Linked DNA regions of Homo sapiens: region 2 is linked to region 1. The links come from fine-mapping of genetic effects on gene expression. A gene starts in region 1. The other region holds a variant in brackets. All regions are shown on one strand. Distances are from middle to middle.

The links. PIP is the estimated chance that this variant, and not a neighbour inherited with it, causes the effect. A credible set is the group of variants that fine-mapping cannot tell apart.
Region 2: its variant is the best candidate, but not a certain one, in a credible set for the expression of CHL1 in testis (GTEx, PIP 0.67).

The regions. Positions count from the first base shown.
Region 1 is chr3:194,238-198,627 of GRCh38, reverse strand. CHL1 (cell adhesion molecule L1 like) reads right to left here and starts at 1,865. Exons shown (of 28, transcript NM_006614.4): 1 at 1,565-1,865. CHL1-AS2 (CHL1 antisense RNA 2) reads left to right here and starts at 1,287. Exons shown (of 4, transcript NR_144487.1): 1 at 1,287-1,661; 2 at 2,120-2,172; 3 at 2,588-2,632; 4 at 2,714-2,870.
Region 2 is chr3:61,892-66,281 of GRCh38, reverse strand. The region is part of intron 1 of LOC105376921 (a long non-coding RNA gene); the gene reads right to left. Among named protein-coding and RNA genes, the nearest start is that of LINC01986, 52 kb to the right of the region's middle. The variant A/G (reference allele first, on the strand shown) is at 2,600.

The DNA of each region.
Region 1 (4,390 bases):
TGGTGTTAAATTACTTGTATCATCTCATTCCAGTCTTGCAACAACCCAGTATAGAGGGTATCGATAATCTCCGTATTATTGAGAAAGGGAAACTGAGGCACGTAGTTAAATGCCTAGTCCAGAGTGACGCATCACAGTGATGGTGGAGCTGGAATTCGAAGCCACGTGGGCGTCCCGGGAGCCTCCGCCTAGAGCGAGCCCGGGGGGCCCACCAGTTACCATCGCCACGCGCACGCGCAAATCTCCCCGCGCACGGCGCGTTCCCGCGGGAGCGCGCCCTCGCGCACGCGCCTGGCAGGGCAGCCGCTCGCCGGCCCTGGGGCTGCTCCGCGGCTCCCACGAGCGGGACTGGACGCCGGCGCCCTTCGAGGAGGGGCTGAACCTGGGGCGCCCTCTCTGCCGGGCCACCCAGCCCTGCCGACGCACACCTGCCCTCCGCCGCCGGCCTCCCACCCCTTCCCCGCCCGCCTTCCCGCCCAGCAGCCCAAACGCCCACCCTGCGCTCCACCCTGCTGGCCGTCTGGGGCGGGGGTACCTGGGCCCGCGCGGCTGCTGCTCCTCCGGCCCGTGGTTTTTCGCAGGAGTTCCCCGGCCCTGCCCCTGGCTGAGACACTGTGGCTCGCAGCGAGCCCGGAGAGTGGGAACGGAGGGGCTGGCTTTCCCCAGCCTCCCGGCTCCAATCCCTGCTCCCCAAATTAATCACTTTCTCCGTGCTGCCTCCCCACGCACACTCACACTCCAAAAAAAAAAAAAAAGCGAGAGAAAGAGAGAGGCACAAAGAGGAAGAAGGGACCATCCGCGACCGGCATCTCCAGCCCCCCGGGCTCCGCTACCAGGAGCCATGGCAACCACGGCCCCCGGCGCGCCCTCTCGCCCCTCGGCGGTCTGGGGAGGTGGAGCTCTAGCCCCTCTCTGGGTTTTCGTGCTCCCCAACCCCACAACCCCACGGTCCATGGATTCCCCGCTCCAGGCTGGCGGCATTTTCGGAACCCCCCCCGGGCTGGGATCTAGAATCCTCTCCTGAGAGGAGGAGCCACACAGGGGCAGTGGACTGGGGGGGTCTGAGCCCCACACACCAGGCGGTGTCCAGGGGAGCGAGGGGCGCGGTGGGAGACAGAGGCCGGGACTGACCCCCAGACCAGCTAGACCTCGGAGCCCCACCCGAGAGAGGGCGGAGATCTACGGGGGGGTCTGGAATCCTCCTCAGAGAGCAGCGAGGGATGGGGTGGCGGAGGCTGGAAGCGGGAGGGCCAACCTACCGGCGGCCGGCGGGCGTGAGTGGGACCCGGCGGATTCGGGCGCCCGGTGTGCTCCGTCGACTGACCCCGAGCTGTCCGAATCCGGCCTCGGCCACCGGGGGCGGGGCGTGAAAAGGGGGCGTCTCCTCCCGGGTGCAGGCTGAGGGGCCCGGACCACCCCCACTGCGGACGAGGGACCCTGACCGCGCCCCGCTTCCTTTCCATAACGAGTGGACCCCTCCCGGAGCACCTTCAGCCCTTCCTCCACGGGAGACCCCCCCAGCGCCGGCACGAGAGATGCCAGCGGACCCCCACCCCTGACACACCTGCGCCGCCTCCGAAACGCGATCTGTCCGGCGCCTCCCCTCGGGCGCCTTCTCCCCCGAGCCGGCCGGGAGCCGGGACGGGGGCGCGCAGGGTCCGGTAAGCTCTGGGCGGATCCAGGGAGGGTCTCGCCGGCCGCTGCCCGCTGGTCCGCACCCGGGGCTGTCCGCGGAGGTCCCGCCCGTCCCCTCCCGCCGCTGGCTCTCTGGCCGCGGGAAGGCTGGAGCCGTTCTGGCTGGCACCGGGGTCTACGCCCTCCTGCCGGAGGCTGGCTCTCGCCTCTGCTCCCTTCCTGGGTTCTGCGCCGCCACCCCTCACCCACGCCGCTTATCTTCCCTCCCTTTGCACGCTCCCGCGGGACAGGGAGAGTTACAGGCTTCAGACTTTATCTCGTTGTGGAAAGCAAGAGACCAAGCCAAAAACTTTGGTCGTGCTTTTCAACATCTCCGGTCAAAAGAGGTAGGATCCCTGCTCGTTTATCTGCAAAAGCGACATTTAAAAGAAACGCCCCCCACCCCCTCCCCGATGGTTTCACTCGGTTCATGTTGCACACACAGGTCGCCAATCTGCTTTTCTCCCATTGCTGCGTCTTAGAGGGGTGTGGTGCCATGTACGTATTAAAAATTGTCTTCTTGCTTTCCTTCATTTAAGGGCGTGGTGGGGCTTGCTATTGAATTTACAAAATATGCTACGACCATCCGCTGTCAAATTGTGCATGCTTAAATTTACAGATCTTCTACTATCTCACAATTTTTGCCCTAATACAGAGTCTATAATGTTACCACATCGTTTCGTAACGTTTTTCCTACTTATCCTTTATTAATTCACTATTGGAGAGGAAAGCCTTCTGTACTCATATTCAGTGCAAAAAGCCAGTTCTGATGCCTTATGAATCCACAAACACATAAAAATATTTTAGGATTCCAAAATTCATATGGAAAAATTATAATTTTTAGCACTACATTTGATTTATATGCCACTTTATTTTTTTTCCATTATGGTGGTATTTTCCAAAATTTTTACAGGATACCACTTTTGAAAATCCTGTTGAATGCAAGTCCTCTTTGTTGGTAAGAGAATTATTGACTTCTAATTTTTACTCCACTAAGGCTGTGAGATTGACCTTACAGCCTCGTTTTGTTTTCATCTAGCTCATTGAACAATGAGGATATTTAGCTCCCCTCAGAGCTACCCTCAGAGTTGGATGAGCTATCCTCAGAGTTGGATGCCACCACCGGGAGCAGCAAAAGCGAAGGCAACTCATGATTCTGCCTCAGAAGCAATCGAATAAAATATTTTGAAAATGAATGAATGGACTTTTAAATTTTAATCATCGCTAACCTTGGGGCCTCGATTCTGTCAATTTGTGTGTGGGCACAGTTCTTACCAACTGCCTTGGCAAATTGTGAATGCAAGTGAGGGCAGGATTTGTCCTAAGTTTAAATTGTACTGCTGGAGTGATTTCTTTTGCCTGAGGCATCATTATTCACGTGGCATGTTTTCTAAAGTAGAAACAAAGATAGAATATTAAATAAAATTCCAACAGGGGGAAATACTCTGCCTGTAGAAAAACATTTCCAAGGTCAAGGAACCACAAGAGAACAACAAAGCGAAGTTGGTCTCAGGAGTTTACCATCTTCTGGGTGAACAAACATCAGCTGAGCAAGGGACTCGGAACTCCATTTTGGCCAGATGAACAGAGTACTCTTAAATATATAGCTCCTTCTTTCTTGGTGATTTGTTTCTTGACAATAGAATCATTATTTACAAAACAAATATTTATTGAGCAGCTACTATTTAATCAATCACTGGTCTGGGTGCTGGGCTCAGTAGGAAACTCAATAGGCATGGCCAGTAGCTTTTTAAAAAATCAAATACCCTCCAAATATATTAGACAGTACCAAGCCACAATACCCAAAACAAGAAGATGGCCAGTTCTTAACTATGAGTTTTTAACTGAAAGGGAGATAACATTCTTCTAAGCTTCTGGCATTGCATATAAATGAAGAAATAATAGCCACACATAGCTTACTAGGGACAGTAAGGAAGTCAGCTTGTATGCAATACACGTTATCCCAGGCAACCAAATTTTACGAAAGAAAAGAGGGAGATAGGGAAAGTCTAGGGAAGGAAAAAAGGGAGGAAGGAAGGAAGGAAGGGAGGAAGGATGGAAAGAAAGAAGGCCAGCAAATGATAAACCAAGAAAGGAAATCGTACTTTTTAAGGCAATGCAAAAGGAAGACAGATGACCTAAATTTCTACATCCAAGAAACACCTCATAGCTGTCGCTTCCAAGGATGAGTTCATATTTTTGATACATTATCAAAAGCAGGCAACACATCTAGGCTTGCCTGGCCCCAGGAATTCACAACTCTACAGCCTGAGCTTCCAGTAAGGCTGGAACCAGAAGACAGTCCCCAGCCAGAGCGGATGCTTGCTAGAGATACCTTCTGCTGCTGCTTTGGAACCCTCCCCTGGCTCCCATTCTACTGTCTGACACTTGGTTCAGACCCATTTCCCATTCAACATACAATCCTAATCTATCAGGCATCCCACAGTTGCACCTAGGTGCTAGAGAAAGAAGATATACTTATGAGTCACATGGAAATGTGATTGCCGTAGCTTTGAAAGGTGTGAATTTTCTCTCTGATAATTGAGGACGGCCGTTTCGAATGAAAATACTAATATCAAGCCACAAAAATAGGGGAGAAAAGGGCCCTATCATGAATAGAAGCAGAAGGTGAGAGAGAGGCCAGTCATCTGGAAAAAGATAAAAGCTATTAAAAGCTGGGGCATTTTTCAGCTTTTCCTGCTGATTTACTGCCTCC
Region 2 (4,390 bases), 130 kb after region 1:
TCCAAAAATAAAGGATTCTTGACTACATCCTGAGTTTTTCCCTATTATTAGATAATGTCAATTCTTCAGCTTTCAGAAATATTATACCACCTTGCATTATTTTGTCCCACATCTTTCTGACATCCTGAGTGCCTTATTTAGCCCCTGACCAGCATTTCCTCTCCAAACCCAGGAATGTTAGCATCTCCAAAGGGTTAGTTCTAAGCTCTCCATTGTTTCTTGTCTCTTAGCCATTGACTATATTCCACTGCCAAGATGAAGGCTTTTGGACTCAGACAGATCTATGTTTTGAATCCCAGCTCAGCTGTTCATTATATGCATCTCCACTGAACAGAACCTGGACTCTCTGAGTTGAATTCTTTCACTATCAGACAGAATTGATAACACTAATCTCACAAGATTGGTCTGAGGAATAAACGGTGCCATATTTAGAAAGCATCATACGTCCTCACAAATTATAGTCCTACTATGGTGATAATTTCTGTCATTGCCTTTTCACTGGAATTTGAATTCTTTTGGGGCTGGAGACTATGCCAGCTGTGTTAGTCTATTTTTATACTACTATGAATAAATACCCAAAACTTGGTAATTTATAAAGAAAAGAGGTTTAATGGACTCAGAGTTCCACATGGCTGGGGAGGCCTCACCATCATGGTGGAAGGTGAAGGAAGAGCAGAGGTACATCTTACGTGGTGGCAGGCAAGACAGTGTGTGCAGGGCAACTGCCCTTTACAAAACCATCAGATCTCATAAGACTTATACAGTATCATGAGAACAGCATGGGAAAAACCTGCCCCATGATTCAATTGCTACCACCAGGTCCCTCTCATGACATGTGGGCATTATGGGAGCTACAATTCAATGTGAGATTTGGGTGGGGAAGCAGCTAAACCATATCACCAACCTTGATCACTATTGTATACTTAGTGCCTAGAATGGTGCTTCCACATAGACAGTGCTACATACATGTAACCTGAATGTAAGCTGGCACCCATGTAGTAGAGTTTCTGAGGAGAATCCTAGTGACATTCACTCAGCCCAGGAGCCAGAAGTAGTGCAAACTGCAGCACATCCATTAACTTGCATTTCTCAGAAAAGGAAAACTGTTCATTTAAAATTTAAATTAACACTTTGTAAAATCTTCTTTTCCCTTTTTCTTCTAACCTATCATCCTCTCACAGCTCTCATTTCTTTCTCAATTCCTCACCCAAAACTTCTTTGCAAACCTCTTAGTTCTCTTCATTCCCTATATCCAGCAAGTTCTGCACCATGTTCATTTTGAAATATATGTTTTCAATGCACCTTAACTATAAATAATTGACTCATGTTATTCTGTCATATTGTAAAGGATTCTGCAAAAGCCCTAATGCCTAACAAGGAGACGTTACTACTAGAGCAGAAAAAGTGGAAACCGGTGTAAACCCAAGGGGACCATCAGAGTATAAGAAACAGTTAGTCTCCAGATCGGACAAATGAACATGTTCAAAGCAATAGAATGTGGAATCAGAATGAGGGAAGGCTCTGACCTAAACTGACTTTTGTGTTGCACTTCCTAATAATTTTGTGAAGTTCCACTCTGTCCCTCTTCATGATAAATTCCTGAGAGCAGAGACTTCAGTAATTCATTTATTCCTTTTGTAACAGTGTCCCAGCAAAGAACTAAGCATACTGCAGATTCTCATAAGTTGAAAAGGCACTTTTAATACATCTGATTTACCTTTCTTTAGGCCTGTAGAGACAAGGAGAAATAATCCTCCTCAGGAAGCTGAAGGGGGTAACTAGGGATACTAGATGCTGAGAGAATCTCTCCTAAAACATTGAATAAAATCTCCCTTAATTCAAGTGCTTTATTATTTCACCCCACATACATTTGAATAGAGTGCTGGTAACAAGTCTCATTCGCCTACTGATGATATTACAGAGAAAACGTTAATTGTTGGTGAAGAGTAGTTTAGAGAGTTTGACTAAAGAGTAGCATGATCTAATGGAAAGATGTAGACCTGAATTCTTATCTTTGCTCCAGCAATTATGAACTGTATGATGTGAAACAAGTCCTTTAATCTTTCAGTCTTAATTTCTATCTTTATCTGACTTCATCTTGTAGGGATGTTAGAGATTAACAAAATATTTAATGTAATACCTAGCATAGAATATTTCCTAAAAATTTGGTAGTATGGCCTTCATAATACTACAGTATTTTCTATATATTTTAACCTGAAGCTAGCAACCCAAAAATACAATCCTAAAAAAGAGAGATACTGAGGTTTTACCAAGAGTAAGATTTTCTTTACACTGCCATTTAATCTCTTTTTAAAAAATATGTTCTCTATGCATTGACTATTCCCATTGCATTTTGTCTACTCCTTGCCAGTTTTACCACTCACATCCTTCTGACTTATGCTGATGTTTTTCAAGTCTTGACTTAGTCACCTTTTGAATGCAATATTCAGGCTATCTAATTGGGCTTCATAAACCAACTCCTCCTGGATTTCAGTTATTTTCTCTGCTTGGTTTTGAGTTTCCCATTTAGGTTTGTTCGGGATCTTGGCACAGGTCCAGAGGAAGGCAACATGCCTGGGGTGGGGCATCCCTAGACACA[A/G]TGTTTTACCAGGTATGGGAGAAGTCTCTATGCCCCTGGTTATCTTGCAAAACCTCATTTGCTTCTGGCTGAGAACAGATTGCCCTCACCCTCCCCTTCATTTCGTAACTGTGAGAACAAAGAAGTCTGCTCCTGTGAGAGATAAAGTATTCAGCAGTGTTTGAGATGATTAGAAACAAGAAAAAGATTTCTTGTGGGTTTTGACAGGGCTTTCTCCTCTGCACTGGTGGAAGACAGAGCTTTAGTCAATATTCTGCTACTAGCCAAGAGGTTTACCGCAATTCTGATCCAAGCCTAACCCTGCGAAACAAAGAATTTCTTCATGCCATGAATAATCTGTGTTCTGCAGGCTGGGTGACCTCCTTCCCCGAAATGAAGTGCATAAGTGACTTTTGATCTAACAAGTTTATAGAGTGACTTCAGGGAAATCTCATGTTTAATTTGTGTATTGACCATGTAAATATGCGGCTTTGAATGTGATTGTTTGCTGCTGATGAGCCATCAATCAAGCTGCATTTTAAACTTGCTTTCGAAGCAGTGTTTACTTGAAATGAGTGTTTAGAAGACAGGGAGGAGGAGGGGGACATTTTAGAAATGTTCTTTGAGGCTATTTTAGAGATGTCCGTGACACCTATTTGCACATTTTGGGACTTTTATTCAAGTCAAAAAACATTTACTGAGCACACACAATATCCTCAGAAATGAACTATAAATCAGGACATAACATTATCAGTAACATTTTATGCTTACTCTGGGCTAATGCCTATTCTACTTTCTGGGGATTACCAAGAGCTAAGAGAACTGTATTTGTTTTCTAGGTTGCTGTAACAAATTACTACAAACCTGGAGGCGTAAAACAACAGAAATGTATTTTCTCATAATTATGAAGGCCAGAAGTCCAAACTCAAAGTGTTGGCAAGGTCACACTTCCTCCAAAACTGTAAGGGAGAATCTGCTGCATGCCTATCTTTTAACTTCTGGTAGGCACCATCAACCCTCAGCATTCCTTGGCTTGTAGTTGCATCATTCCAATCTTTGCTGCTCTCTTCATATTGCCTTCTCTGTGTATGTCCTCCGTTTTGTGTCTATCTCTGACTCCCTTTTCCTTTCGCTTTGAAGGATACATGTGTGATTGTTAGTTTTATATATTAACTTGACAGGGCCAATAGATAGGACACCAAAATCCCTCTCCATCTGTGGACATGAGAACCTCGAAAAAAAAAGTTATCTGCCTCCAAAATACAATGATGGGCAAGTGTAGTTAATAGTTATAAACACTGCCATTTTAAGGGAGACAATGGAAGATACAAAGTGGTCACTGATGCCAAGCCAGTTCAAAATCCAGCAAGGAAAATTTCCTTAGGTTTCAAGACCTGACAATTATTTTCTGTTGCTTGAAGCTATGATCTCTGGGTCTGGAGCTTTGCCCTCTGTACCCAAGGCTCTGCACTCAGAGTCATTCTTCTCTTTTTTTTGAATGATAATACATGTTTGTAGCCAACTAGTTCTATCAGCCCATTTTCTGCCTATAAAATCCCAGAAGTCTGACAGTCTGCCTTCATTATGTCCCATGTATGTCCCTTTCAGGCCAGTCTGGCAGTGTTTCTGCTGATACAATATTCCCCAAAACCTTGTGGGTCTCCCATGTTTGTCACAGGGACTCATATAATTAAACAACAGCATACTCCGTAGGCCTTTCCTGGATAAACCCAACTCTTCTTAGCTTCTGTTGAGACGGTTGAGTGAGTTCAGAAGTCACACATCTGCAATTATTAAATTCCTGTCCAGCCA